Linked DNA regions of Homo sapiens. The main gene of each other region encodes a partner of the protein of the gene in region 2 in a complex. Each region holds a gene or a part of one and is shown on either strand. Other genes may lie near its edges.

What was found.
Region 1: GSPT2 (region 2) and ETF1 share a complex: the UniProt entries of both Homo sapiens proteins name them as parts of the eRF1-eRF3-GTP ternary complex.

What each region holds. Positions count from the first base shown.
Region 1 is NC_000005.10:138,540,014-138,547,309, forward strand, and holds the start of ETF1 (eukaryotic peptide chain release factor subunit 1), read right to left. Parts: upstream 3,224-7,296; 5' UTR 3,084-3,223; intron 2,931-3,083; exon of another isoform or gene 2,924-2,930; 5' UTR 2,906-2,923; coding exon 2,820-2,905; exon of another isoform or gene 2,621-2,819; intron 1,699-2,620; exon of another isoform or gene 1,550-1,698; coding exon of another isoform or gene 1,506-1,549; intron 1-1,505. UniProt on the Homo sapiens protein: Component of the eRF1-eRF3-GTP ternary complex, a ternary complex that mediates translation termination in response to the termination codons. The eRF1-eRF3-GTP complex binds to a stop codon in the ribosomal A-site.
Region 2 is NC_000023.11:51,738,909-51,746,558, reverse strand, and holds GSPT2 (eukaryotic peptide chain release factor GTP-binding subunit ERF3B), read right to left. Parts: upstream 3,118-7,650; 5' UTR 2,933-3,117; coding exon 1,046-2,932; 3' UTR 327-1,045; downstream 1-326. UniProt on the Homo sapiens protein: GTPase component of the eRF1-eRF3-GTP ternary complex, a ternary complex that mediates translation termination in response to the termination codons UAA, UAG and UGA.

The DNA.
Region 1 (7,296 bases), on a different chromosome or scaffold from region 2:
TTTTGCCAACATACTTCCCTTTATTCAGATGTAGTTAGTGAGCCCATTTTGCAGGTGGTTCCTTTTTCAAGCTACATTAAATTTGGGTCATATATCAAGAGATAACCACATAGGATTATCTTAATTTCAAAATCACTCTTATTCTAGCATATTTTAATAACTACTGTTAAAAACAAATCCATGATTCCTATGCCTAGAATTCTACACTGCTAAGGGGAGGAAAGGGCTTTTTCATTTCCAAAACAATACTGTTACTCAACCACTAAGTCTCACTACCTTGTCCTAATAACCATGCCTGAAAACCTCAGTTTCCTCCTGAAAACCAGAGTATCCCCAAAACATCAGCAAATACAGATTCATTTTGCCATCCACTTAAGTCTTTAAAGCCCATTACAATTCTTCTAAAGATATTTTATCACTAGGTAAAGTAGGAATAACATTTTCCACTGTACCCTATCTATGAAAATCTAGAGTCTGACTTTAACACAAGTTGGCAATGAAAATATTCCCACCTCCAAAAACTGGTATATACTGGGGAATCTTCTGACTCCCTTACCAATACTCAGAGATGGCCAAGATTTTAAATTTCCATGGGATCAAGATGCAACCAAATCCTGATTAAAAGCAAAGTAGGACATGATTATTAACCACAATGTGTAGCGGAAGGTCCTCCAGCTATTTTAGACAGCTTAATCATGTCTGAAATATCCAAACTCAACAACTTGAAATACAAGTTGTGTCTTATAACTTCATTTTTAGCATGCTTTAAACTTTACTGAACTTTGCTAAACAAAGAGGTAAAGCCTTCAAAAGCCTTAAAGAGGCGCTTAAAAGTTTCTAGTGGCTAGGTAACATGGGTAGAACAAATTTAAGAATGAGTTTCCTTCATTAAGCAGTAGAAAGGAATGCTGTTACTTATTAAGCAATGTCATCTTCAATGTTACTTCATTCAAACAGGCAAATTATAGTCATGATTTAATTTTTTGGACTGTTTCAGAGAATATAACGTATGCAAATTAAAATGTGTAAACCTGCCTGCTACTGAAAGCAGTAAGAACAAATCCAGAGGTCACATCCACCTATATACAATACTGCAACAACAGCAATCTATAAAATGCAATACTGGATTGAAGGCTTCAAGTAACAAAACAAGATCCTACTGAAACAAAAGAACCTGGCTAATTCTTGGTAGTGCAACATAATGGGTCGTGACCTATGTTACCCTTTCTGTACAGTATTCTCACATTTTGGGAATAACTGGTCACTCTATCATACGGCACAAGTTCCTGTAAGATCATTAAGAAGGTCTGGATATTCTATTGAATTCAAAGAAAAACCTAAGGACTAACAAGCCGCTGTCTTCGATTCATATTAAACTAACGTTTCTCCAGTAAACCGAAGGAGTGAGCACAAGCCCGTCACTGAATGGGGCCAAACTTTTAGAAGCCTCATTCCAAACAGAACTGTCCCTAATTTATTAAGAACAAAACACTAGTAAAACCAACCTGTGAATTGGGCCTTCAGTACAATTAAGCACATCCTGTTTCATATAACAGTAATAATGAAGAGCTTGGAGGGGCTGTCATTCTAAAATTGCAAATCTACCCATAAATGACAATCCTGGGCTGGAAACCAGAATGTCAAATTCTTGTGCTGAAATCAACTTTTCACATGGCCTGAGGCAGGCCATTCTACTATTCTAAGAATGCTCAGACATACAAGTATGTAATAATGTTCCAAACACTTTTTTTTGGGGGGGGGGGCACTTCCTGTAAGTAAAAAGTTTCTATGACTGGGAAAGGAACAAAATAAAGTAATAAAAGAAACAGGAATACCCCTGGCACACCTTCCTCAAACGAACAACGTTAAAAAAAAAAGAAAACACACACACACAGCTAATTTTAATCTAGCCTACTCTCCCCCCAATGGACACACCTACAGTTTCTTATCAAAATGTACAAGACTCAAAGCCCATTTAATTCAATTATGAATCTCACTCAACAAGCATCAAGCACATCAGGCGCCTCTCTACAGCGATATCCCCACAAGTTTCAGAGAAATGCCAGCAGGGACTCTGTAGTTATGATTCCTATCAAACGGCCCCCTAACCCGTATTTCTCCTGGACATACACATGCAGATTCATTAACCAAAACCTACCCAGCACCCCTCACATCGCGCGTACGTTGGCATTTTCAGTTTATAGGTGGGTCCTGGAACAGCTAAAACCAGGAAGCTCCGGGGTAATTAGAGGACTTGGGAGAAGTCATCTTGGGACAGGTGGAAGACCCAGAGAAATCAGGAATCAGAAAGAAGCTGTCCCTGGCCACCTCTGCTTCCCGTCCCATCCAAACTTCACCCACCCGGGTCTCAGAAGCCCAGAAGGGAGAGGCCATTTTAATGAGGCCTGGCTGAGAAATGAAGGGAGAAGAGGAAATCAGGGAAGGGCCCTGGGAAAGGAAGGCCGAACACTTTGCCACAATAGCACCCGAGTCGGGTGGCAGCACCTGGAGCCCGAAGAGGGAGGACCTGGACTTAAGGGCCCGGGAGAGGTGCAAAAGTAGCGGTGGCCTACCACGAGGGGGGCCGAGTGATCTAAACCGGGGAGCGCGGGCCCCTTACCCCCATGCGGGGAAAGGACCCCTTCTCGGGCCAACCGCGCCGACCCTCGCCCCTGGGTCAGGGGCTACTACCCAGAGATCCAGAAGGCGGGAGTTGGCTAGTGCCTGGTTCTCCTCATCCGGCCATGCGGCGCGGGGGCGTCCATCCTGAGGGGTCCGGGAACCAAGAGGGCACGGAGGGTGCCGGACGCGGCGCTCACCCGCGGGCCGCCTCCAAGCTCTTAATGAGCTTCTTGATCTTCCAGATCTCCACGTTCCTGTCGGCAGCACTGGGGTCGTCCGCCATCTTCTCGCCTCCTCCTCCCTAGAGCGGCCCGGCGGGGCCCGGAGACACCAAGACCACAGAGTTAGCGCCGCCGCTGGGGCAGAGCGGCCCCCTTCCTCGCCATCCCCCAGAGGCCCTCTCCTCCCGTCCGGTGCAGCTCGCCACAAAGGTCACCGGCCTTTCCCTCCCTGTGCCTTACCTAAGGGCCCAGTCCTGGGCGGCAGCGGCTGCTCCTCCCCGGCGGCGGCTCCGCGGCGGCGGCGGCTCTGACGTAGGACACCGGCTCCCTCTCTCCAGGCAGCTGCATGTGTTGCAATCCGCTCACATGGGGCCTGTGACATCACTTCCTCCGCCAGGGGCGGAGTGGAAGGCGGCAGGCGGAAGGGAGGGGGCCGGTGCGAGTGAGGAGAAGCTGGGCGTCCGCCGCGACTTCTCATTGGCTCTCTGCCCCGCAGCCTACAATGAGCCCGCCGATTGGCTGCAGCTGGGTCCGCGCCGCCTTGTGAGGTAAGGCTGGGGGGTGGGAGGTGCCACCTTTCTTCCGGCCCGGCAAGGCGAGAGGAGGAAGCGGGCGGAAGCCGGTGGCTCTCGCGAGTTTACTGAGAGCCCCCGTCAGGCTCGAATGGGGGTGGTTCTTAAAGAGAGAGGACCGGGGTCGTCGTCTTTTCAGTCCATTCTCCTTGAATAGGGTGGACATCTGAGGCTTTGCGACTCGAAGCTAGGCACTTGGGCCCGACGCGCGGTTTGAACGGTGCTTGAGAAGCCGCGAAGAAGCGCCTCGCGCTCAGCGGCTTCTTCGCTGACGAAGTGCTGCGGTCTGCGTGCGTCATGGCTGCACGGAATAGTGTGGAGGAGTCCTGGCCAGTAGGTCTGGATGAGGAACCTGCCTCCGGGCGGTCCGGGACCCTCACCTGCAGGGGCGAAAGAGGCCTGTTTTCTCTCGCCCCAGAGCTAGGACGGGCTCACTTTGGACTTAGAACTTTATGGGGTGGAAGACAGCGGGGGCTGCCTGAGCTTGGAGACCTGAGGTATCTGGTCCCATGTATGATTTGGCCTGAGCCGTTGAGAATGGGGGTGGAGAGAGTTGAAACAAAATGGGCATCCACATACGGTTAGAACTTTATCTTTTTGAGTTAGGATTTTTAGGTGGCTACTTTGTCCCCCCTCACCTCGTCTGGGTTCAAATATTGAGCCCAGACCGTGTGCTGGACCCTGTTTTCCTGGGGATACAGAGGTGAACCAAACAGATGACAGTACTTACCCTTATGGAGCTTATAGTCGATTGGGTTTTTAAGTTTGTGATTTTATACTTTTTGTAATAAAATAATTACACAAATGCTTAAGTACTTCAGGGTGCTCTGAGAGTGTATGGCGGGGACCCAGCTCTGAAATGAGACCCAAAGGATGATTAAGAGTTTGTCAGGAGGAAACAGAATACAGTTGAGAACTACAGAAACGCCAGTGTGCTGGCACAAGGTCAGGGACGGGGAGAGTGGTTTGAGGGAGCAGCAGGGGAAGAGGTCATGTAGGGTCTTTTAAGCCAGATTCAGAAGTTTGGTTTCTTTCAAGAACAGTGGGTAGTTTAAAGGGTTTAGAGCCCTGGTGTGGACTGGAGAGAGTACAGGAGAAGCCCAGAGACCATTTTGGCTGCTTCATTATCATGTGAGAGATGATTTTCGCTTACATTAGGGTGGTGACAGTGCAGATAGAAGTGAATGAAGGGCCTGGTGCAGTGGCCCACGGCTGTAATCCCAGCACTTTGGGAGGCCAAAGGGGAGGATCGCTTGAGCCCAGGAGTTTGCGAGCAGCCTGGGCAACATGGCAAGATTCCGTCTCTACAAAATTACAAAATATTAGCCTGGTGTGGTGGCCCGCGCCTGTAGTCCCAGCTGCTTGGGAGGCTGAGGTGGGAGAAACCCTTGAGCCGAGGAATTCGAGGCTGCAGTGAGCTGAGATCACACCACTACACTCCAGCCTGGGTGACAGAGCGAGACCTTGTCTCGAGGAAAAAAAAAAAGTGAATAGGACTGGATGATGGATTGGTTGAGGAAAACCAAGAATGGTTCCCAGAGTACTGAAGTGGTGACATTTACTGAGGTGGGAAAGGTGAGGAGTAGGTGTTGGGGGATGATTGAGAATTTCATCTTGGGCCTGTTAAGTTTGAGATTGCTTATGAGACATGTAAGTAGGGATGTCCGTCATGCGCTTTCATTTGTATGGTTTTTGAATACTTTTTGCATGTGTTATAAACTGTGTCCACACTTTGAAGATGGGGGTATGACCTCCATTTCATACATGGGGAAACTGAGGCAAAGAAAAGTGAAAGGGATCTGCTCAGAGTCCACAGCTAGTTTATGGCTTCCCGACTCCATTTTTGGAGTCCAGTGTATTATACAGTGACCCCATTACCTGTATTTTCATAGGGTGGGGACACGGTCATACTTCTGTCCCCCAGGAAATGAATCTCAGGTTGGAACCTCTTCTTTGGGTTCCATTTTGTAGTTTTTGGCATATGTTTATTTGTTATATAATATTGTACTCCTGCTGTGTGTGTGTCATTCACTGTGTTTAGTAGTGAACGGAGGGGTCTTCTTAGTCATAAACACTGCTTACTGACTAGGAATCAACTGTGTCCAAGGTTTTCCTTCATTCCTCTTGCCCTGGTTCCTCCTTTCTATATTAGATTGCCCTACTCTACCCTTCCTGTTCTTTTTTTTTTTTTTTTTAAAGACGGAGTCTCCCTTTGTCGCCCAGGTTGGAGTGCAGTGGCACGATCTTGGCTCACTGCAACCTCCACATCCCGGGTTCAAGCGATTCTTCTGCGGCAGCCTCCTGAGTAGCTGGGACTACAGGCGGGTGCCACCATGCCCAGCTAATTTTTTGTATTTTTATTAGAGTCGGGGTTTCACCGTGTTAGCCAGGATGGTCTCGATCTCCTGACCTCGTGATCTGCCTGCCTCGGCCTCCCAAAGTGCTGGGATTACAGGCGTGAACCACCATGCCGGGCCAGTTTTTGTATTTTTTATTTTTTATTTTTTTTTTAGCAGAGACAGGGTTTCACCATGTTGGCCAGGCTGATCTTGAATTCCTGACCTCAGGTGATCCACCTGCCTCCGCTTCCCAAAGTGCTGGGATTACATGCGTGAGCCACCACACCTGGCCTCCTCTTCCTTTTGATGTTTGTGTTTACAGCATTGCTTCAGGTCCATGCTTGAAGGCTTTCTTCTGTGTGATTCAGGCTGAAGTAAGCATGACGACATCCCAAGTAGGATTGCTGTTTTCAGCCTCTGAATTCTTAAAACTTATTTCTTAGACAATTGCAGGCCCAGGTAGCCCCAAAAGCTCCTTGCCTAGTTGCTGCAAATTCACCATCTCTGCATTTAGAATTAGAAATCAGTGCATTAGAGGCAAAGGCTGGGATAACTATCTACGTGAAGAGGTTTGGGATGTATGAAGCACGGATGGTAGTGCCTGCATCAAGGCTTTTTAAATGGGACCATGACGATTCATTGTTGAGGAATGTTCTGTGATATAAAAGTGATACAGATTTTTCAAACTGCTAAATGGTGAGAACAAAATATATAACCTCTCTAGGCACACAGATTCTCTGAAAAATAAAGGAATTGTTCTTTATGATCTCAGAACTTCCTCCTCAGCTCAAACATTATGTAACAAAGTTAAATATTGGGATATAGGTGATGTTCCTACCTAATTAGGTGGGAGTAGGCAAGTAAGTTTTTGTTTCATTTTCTTTTTTTTTTTTGAGGCAGGGTCTCACTGTTGCCCAGGCTGGAGTACAGTGGTACGATAATAACTCACTGCAACCTTGACCCCAGGACTTAAGCGATCCTTCCACCTCAGCCTCCCTAGTAGCTGGGACCACAGGCGTGGGCCATGATGCCTGGCTAATTTTTGTATTTTTAGTAGAGATGGGGGTTTCACCATGTTGCCCAGGCTGATCTCGAACTCCTGACCCCACGTGACCCACCTGCCTCAGCCTCCCTAGTAGCTGGGACCACAGGCGCAGGCCATGATGCCTGGCTAATTTTTGTATGTTTAGTAGAGATAGGGGTTTCACCATGTTGCCCAGGCTGATCTCGAACTCCTGACCTCACGTGACCCACCTGCCTCAGCCTCCCAAAGTGTTGGGATTACAGGCCTGTTATAAGTTTTGATGTTGAAAGCACAAATAAGTCTTTGTGCTTAGAGAGAACTGGTCTCTACAAAAACAAGAAAAAAAAATCAGCCAGGCACAGCAGCATGTGCCCCTAGTGCCAGCTACTGAGGAGGCTGAGGCAGGAAGATCACCGGAGCCCAGGAGTTTGAGGTTACAGTGAGCTGTGATCACTGCACTCCAGCCTGGGTAACAGAGCAAGACCCTTTCTCAAAAAAAAAAAAAAAAAAAAGCTACA
Region 2 (7,650 bases):
GTGACTTCAAGTGAAATAACATCTAACAAAATGAATTTTTCCCCTTATCAATGTCATAACTAAACAACATTGAACAATGTCATAACTAAACAACATTGAACAATGTCATAACTAAACAACATTGAACAAGGTCATAACAACATTGAACAATGTCATAACAACATTGAACAATGTCATAACAACATTGAACAATGTCATACATTGTGCATTGTTGTACGATGTACACCTGCTGTACATTGTTTTGCTTAATGTTGTAGTCTTCAAGAACCTATGGATAATGTTACATGAACTACTGCTATACAAATAAAGACGGCCTGAGCCTTTCATTTTCAAATCACAAGTGGGGAAGCAGAAGAGCTCCTTTATTGACTGGACTTGGACAGAGAAAACAAAGCCCACTGGGAAGAGCCTTAACATACGTTTTTTTCTCAAAATTAAAATTATTCCTTTAATACACACTTATGCATTGTTTGTAAATTCCTCACTTAAAACAGTAAGTGGTGAAGAGTTTTTAAGTTTTTAAGTGATAGAACATATTCAACTATTTGAGAAAGTAATAAAGCTAATTGAATAGCATTACATAATGACATTTAAACATTATTCAAAAGCATTTCAAATAACCGAAGAGTTTCAAATGGAGTATTTTATTCACATGTTAGTTATCATTTTAACACACACACAAACACTGACACACTCTGGTTTGCGTGGAACAAGGGTGGTCTAAATATCCTAAAAGAAAATGAAAAATTAAAGTACATTAATTTTTCATTACTGTAGGCAATTACGTCCACATCACTTACAAAGCTATTACTGATATTGTCCAAGGAAGCAGAGTGGTACAGAGGAAGGAAACTTGAGGGTAAATTCATCAGTGACATAACAGATCTCAACATGAGAAAGCTGACAAAACATGAATTTTTGCTGTGAAATTTCTCTTTGCAAAATATGAAGAAAAGTCAATCAATGGGCAGTAAATAAGAGTAGGTGGTGAACTTTTGCTGTCAATTCTCCTCACAGTATCTTGCAGAGGCATCAAGAAAATTGCTTAGTCCTTCTCTGGGACCAATTTCAGAACTTTTCCAATTGCAATGGTCTTACCCTCATCTCTTAAAGTAAAACGACCCATCTGAGGAAAATCTTTGAACGTCTCGAGGCAGATGGTTCCTGCTGTCCTTAAACGAGCAATGCATACTTGATCTTGTTTCACGAAGCGGGGTCGTGTCTTACTTTTTTCTCCTGATTTTTTGTCTACCAAGGAGATTAACGCTGTTATCTCAACTTCCTCAATACAAGTATGAATGTGCAGCACCGCATTATAACCTGGGCAGATGATGGATTTGTGCTCAATAATCACTATCTGAACATCAAACGTGCGTCCAGAATGGCAGAGGTTACTAGGATCACAAAGTATGAATCCTGGAAGAATCTCTTCTTCTTCAATTCCCTTCAGTCTGATTTTGAGGTTTTCACCTGGGGCTACAAAATCAGTTTCAGTATCATCAGAAAGTATTCCAAGAACTTCTACATTGTGCTTGTTTGGCATCATCACGAGCTGCTGGCCTTTAAAAATGGACCCGGATTCCAGCTTTCCCAGGACCACAGTGCCCATATCTTTGTACTTATCCACAATTGGCAGTCTTATTGGTCCATCAATTGATCTGTTGAAGTTTGGCAAGTTATCCAAATACGGAATAAATGGTAATCCAGTGTACCAAGGGCAGAAATCTGACTGCTCTTTAATATTTGCTCCGGTCAGTCCTGAGCAGGGCATAAAGTGAATGTCCTTTTTTGGACTGAAGCCTACTTTTTTCAAAAAGGGCACCAGTTTTTCTTTACATTCTTCATATCTCTCGATGCTCCAATTTACTGTGGGATCATCCATCTTATTAATAAGCACTATTAAATGTTTTACCCCTGCCGTTTTTGCCAACATCGCATGTTCTCTTGTCTGTCCACCTTTTTCAAATCCAGTTTCAAACTCTCCTTTCCTGGCAGAGATGACCAGCACAGCCAAATCAGCTTGAGAAGCACCACCAATCATATTTGGGACAAAACTCTTGTGGCCAGGGGCATCTAAAATTGTGAAATGTTTCCTTTCTGTTTCAAAATAGGCACGACCCACTTCGACTGTTTTACCCTTGTCTCGTTCCTCCTGATTTGTATCTAAGGCCCAGGACAAATACCAGGTTTCTCTGTTTTTTTCCTTAGCTTCTCTTTCATATTTCTCCAGTGTTCTTTTGTCAACCATTCCAGTCAAAAACATTATCTGTCCTCCGATGGTTGACTTGCCAGCGTCTACATGGCCAATGAATACTACATTTACGTGTTCTTTCTTAGGTGCACCTGAGGGTACGATCACAGATTTGGATTTTCTTATTTCCTCTTTTTCCTCCATCATTTCCTGGCCACTTTCTTCTGGGGGCCCTGAATCTCCCGAGGAACCACCCCCAGGCTCGGCTTCACTTACTTCTTTACTGTGCTCCCATGATTCTTCTAGGGCCATTTCCACCTCTCCATTTTCTACAACAGGTTCTGAAAGTTCCATGGTAACGGCTGAATTGGAACCTTCAAGCGACACTAACGGTTCCTCTCGGGAAGGTTCCACAGGTGCCCCCCGTCCCATCCTTTTACCTTGAGGGTATCCCGCGCCGGTGCAGGTTTCATCGTTGCTGCCGGAGCCGGCCGGGAGGGTGGGCGGCTGAGTCGGGCCCCGCAGGAAGGACGGCACGAACTCCGCGGCGTGTACGTTAGGCACGAAGGGCTTGGCGTTGACGTTGAGCTTACGGCTGAAAGCCGAGCTGAGGGGCTCGCGCTGGGCCTCGGCCACCGCAGAGGAGACTCCATCCCCGCTCGGGGCCGACCCCGGGGATTCCATGTCCACCTGGTCCCAGCAATCGGGCGCCGAGTCGCTGCTGCTGCTGCCCGAATCCATGGTCTCGGAACTTGCTGTGTGGCAGTGAGGGAGCGGGCTCAACAGGCCAGAAGAGCGGGCTCCGCCGGCGGGGTTAAGGCAGCAAGAGCGAAGGGCCAAGGGGTAGCGACACGAACCTTAGCTGCACCGCGGAGGCAGCTAAGCGCCGATGCTGCATTCGCAACTGCGGCGGCAGCAGCAGATATGGCGGCTCAACACTCTCCTCTTGTGTGTGAGCGGATCTCCTCCCCCAAACCCCAACCACTTCCGACTCCTCCACCCCCGACCCAACGCCGGGCGTGGATTGACCCCTCGCTGCTATCCGTACGCTTGGCTTCCTTACTTCTTCTTAGCCACGGGCTAAGTCCAAAAGTATTATTTTTTAAAACGAAAATTTCCATTCACTTTTTTGTTCACACAGTCTGGCAGAGCAATTTGACCACAATCTGATGATTAAACCTAGACAGGAACACATGGTATACAATTCTACCAAAAGATTCAAGTAAAAGTGATCATTTCTATTGAACAAATGGGAGGCAAGATAAGGGTTAACTATACAGAAATTCAGAAACCCAGCAACTGAAGGGAGAGGCAAGGAATGGGTAGGGAGGGACTCATGAAATATATGAGTCTGTAGCCGAACTTAGGAAATGCAACTTAAGATCACTCATTAATTTGAAATCCACAGGCCTTTTGATTTTCCCTTTCCAGTGGGCCCCCATAAGCCTGTAACTTCTGCTGATGGCTTCTATAGTTTAAGGATAGGGTTACAACTTCTTTTCATGTTAAGCACCCTGGCTGTCTGAGGGGAGAGAATTTCCAAGGAGATCCTTGTTCCAGTGAAGCTTCCAGTCACTTCATATGCAGATGCCTGCACAATGGCTGGCCTGCCATTCAATGGTGGATCACGTAGACAAGCACAGGACTCAGATCACTCTTGTTTTACCAACCAACTGAATTCTGGGTTTATCTGCACTACTCCCCAGCACCTCCCTAGTACATCCTGCATCCACAGGCCTCGGGTTTTCCTGCTTCATTCCGGGGGGCCTGGAATCCTACTCACTGCACTGGCTTTGCTCTAAGAAACAATCAGTGTCATGTTGAACCCCTCTACAGTTTATGGTAATGAGACAGGGCTGTAGGTGTCAGCCTAATTAAACCAATTAAGACTTCTGAGATGAACAAAGACCTTAAGACCCTAATCAAAAGAATCTCACTCTCAGAAAGTGTTAACAGTTGAGTCAAAGCCTCAGCGACCTTGTTTGTAAATTAATTTAGTGCAAACTGACATAGAAAATACAAACTTATTCTCTGAATCTGTTTTTAGTCTTCATGTACTCAAATCTGTCACCTTTTGCTTTTATGAATTCAGGTTTTGTGACATACCTAGAAAGACTATTCAGTCCAAACAATCTGCTTAGTACAAGATGGTGTCACATAGATGGATTTATTTTTTTATTTTGAGACAAAGTTTCACTTTTGTTGCCCAGGCTGGAGTGCAGTGGCATGATCTCAGCTCACTGCAACTTCTGCCTCCTGGGTTCAAGCAATTCTCCTGCCTCAGCTTCCTGAGTAGCTGGGATTACAGGCGTCCGCCACCAAGCTCAGCTAATTTTTCTTAATATATATTTTTAGTAGAGACAGGGTTTCACCATGTTGGCCAGACTGGTCTTGAACTCCTGACCTCAGGTGATCCACCTGCCTCGGCCTCCCAAAGTGCTGGGATTACAGGCATGAGCCACCACGCCTGGCCTCATAGTTGGATATTTAAATCCAACAACAAAGCAAAATATTATAAAACCAAGTACCTGATTATAACTTGAGAATTGTGTTCTCCAGACTTTAGGGGTAGGAAAAAAGACAGACTTGGACCCTTGATGTTTTCACTCTGGGGCTGCCACTATTATACTAGCTCTGTACTGTTTCCACACCTTCATTCTTTTTGCCTCCGGTTATGGATTAATTATTTACAGTGACATAAAGAGAATGTGCACACCTATTCACAATAAACAGGAAGAACTGAGAGGTAGAATGTGCAGAGAGACCCTCCACACAAGTGCTGGAGCCTTCTTGGACATTGTGTGAACCTAGAATGGACATTTCTGGGAGAACCTGTCAAGGTTTTGGCAGCCGTGTTCACATAAGGTAATTCATGCAAGGAAGCAGGAGACATCTGGGATTTTTCCTTCACCTGGGTCGAATGCATTGGTCATGAACATATTGGTATGACTGCTACTTAGTGATATCTCAGAGAACAGAGGATACTTCACTGTTAGAACGATAAAGGAGAAGTCAGAAATAGTCTGTGAATGTCCTCATAATCCATCATTCATGAGGTTCCAGGGGAGGCAGTTCAACGCAAGAGAGAGAAGCACTGACCAGATTGTGTCCAGAGAGATTGGCCTTGGACAAAAATCTTTTGGTTTGTGTGATGGGATGCTTGTCTCCAGTCTTTCTGCCTAAGAGTTCATCAGTAAATGAGAGAATTTTCCTCACCAAAGAGGAAAATTTAAAAAAGAGTGTAGGTGATATCCAACCATTGCTTAATTCAATCTTTTTCCTCCTTTAAAAATCTTTTTTATTGTAAAATATAGCACAAACACAGAAAGTCACATTAAAAATTATAGGTTATTGACTTATGAGAAAGGAAACACACTTGTAACAACCATCCAAGTCAAGAGAAATTTGCCAGCCAGCCCAGAAGGCTTCCTTGTGCCCTGTTCAATCACAAATGACTTCCTCCACCTCTCAATGTAACTGCTATTGTGACATTTATGGTAATAACCTATACGATTTTCCGTATAGTTTTATTACACAAATGTGTACACTCAGACACTACAGTTCAATTTGGCCTGCTTTTTTGATATTTCTTTTAAGTCTTTTTTATCTCTGGATACCCAACCTATCTTCCCCTTTTTCATGTCATTTATTTATTGAGGAAAGTGGATGATGTGACTGGTAGAGAGGTTTTTTTGTTTGTTTTTTTGTTTTTTTACATTCTCAGCTTTGCTGACTGTATGTCTATGGTAGAGTTTAGAATATTCCTTTGTTCTCTGTATTTCCTGTTTATCAATAATTAAATCTATGAGCTTGATCAGATTCAGGTGCAATTTTTTAACAAGAATACTTCAAGGGAATTTTGATTATTTCCATCAAGAGGCACATGAGGTCGGGTTGTGACTCTTTTTACAGTTAGCCACAATTATTGATACTTGTTTAGAGACATATCATTAGAGGTTGCAAAATTGTGATATTGCACTTCTGTCATTCTTTCTGTTTTTATTAACTGGAGTGCTGTTCCAAAAAATTTACCTTCAACAGTTTTGTTACTTTCAGATATAGATTGCAAAGGAAATGCAGGAAAAGTGCTTGATTCTTTCGTGTTATTTAGGAGCTTTAAAAAATAATGAGTTGGTTCCCTAGAATCCTACACACATGACAAATAAGGATTTTAAAAGGGATAATTGTGAATTATTGGATTTACATATATTTGAGGCATTTTGATAAATTTTGCTTACTATACTTATTGATGATCATTTGCCAGTGCCTCTTCTGGTTGAGTTCTGAACACTTTTGAGACTATGCTAGTAGTCCTTGATGGTTTATTTATTATATGGTTTGACAAGATGTACCAGACCAATTATACAAATGTTTGCCAAACCAGGAATACTGGTTCTCAATGATAACATGGAAAGATAGATAGAATTAGAAAATAAAATAATTACTCATTTGATTTATCCCACCTACACATATAGTTGTCTCAGTACCACCACCATCAATATGATTTAAAATAAACAGATTTTTTCTTTGCATAAATGCTCTCTCTATTCTCTGCCTGTATTTCATAGTTGAATTGTATCTATCTGATAGTCAATTTTATTGAGTGCTTCCTAAGCGTAGATCATATTTCAATTATTTTATATGGATTCTCTCATTTAATTTTCCCTATCATCCTTTGAAGAAGGTAATCTTATCACTGTTTTACAGATAAGAAAATAACATTCAGAGAGGCCAGGGATTACTCAACGTCACATAGCTAGTAAATAGCGGACTTGGAGTTCAAACACAGACAATATGATTCTAAGACCACACTGGCTTGTATCATCTATTATATATATATATAAAGAAAGGAATAGGGAGATTTGGCAGAGTTAAATCACAAATAGAGGAAGAAGGTTAAATCTTAGATTATCTGGAAAGAATGGAAATATAATAAATTTAAGAGAGAAAGGATAATTCACTGTAGTTCTTTCATGAGGATTTGTGTTTCTTTCCTGAAGTAGGAGACTGGAAATTGTGAAGGAAGACTAAAATAAGAAAAATGATGAATAGGGGAAGATTTATAATAGGCCCTTATGGTATGGGGGAGGTGGCTGATTTGGGAGTAATAAAATTATTTTTTAAAGAATTTAGGTAAACCAAAACAGCACTAGACTGGAGGACATAATATGTTTAGGTTTTGAGATTCCTCTCTTTCCCCATCTTACATCTAGCATCACTGAGCAACTTGGGGCACAAGCAGAGTCTTAAGTTTCATCCAGGTTTAGGTAACAGTGGTGTATGGTAGGCTGAAAGGAGGAGAACAGAAAAATATTGAGGAGCTAGTGAACATAGAGTTAAGAACACTGTGCCTTATATTGGTTCTCTTGGCGTATGTTCCAGCCCCATTCACAAATAAGCTTCTCTGTGCTGAGATGGCTAGAAAGCTTAAGCCTCCATTTCCTAGAGTTTTGCTGCTG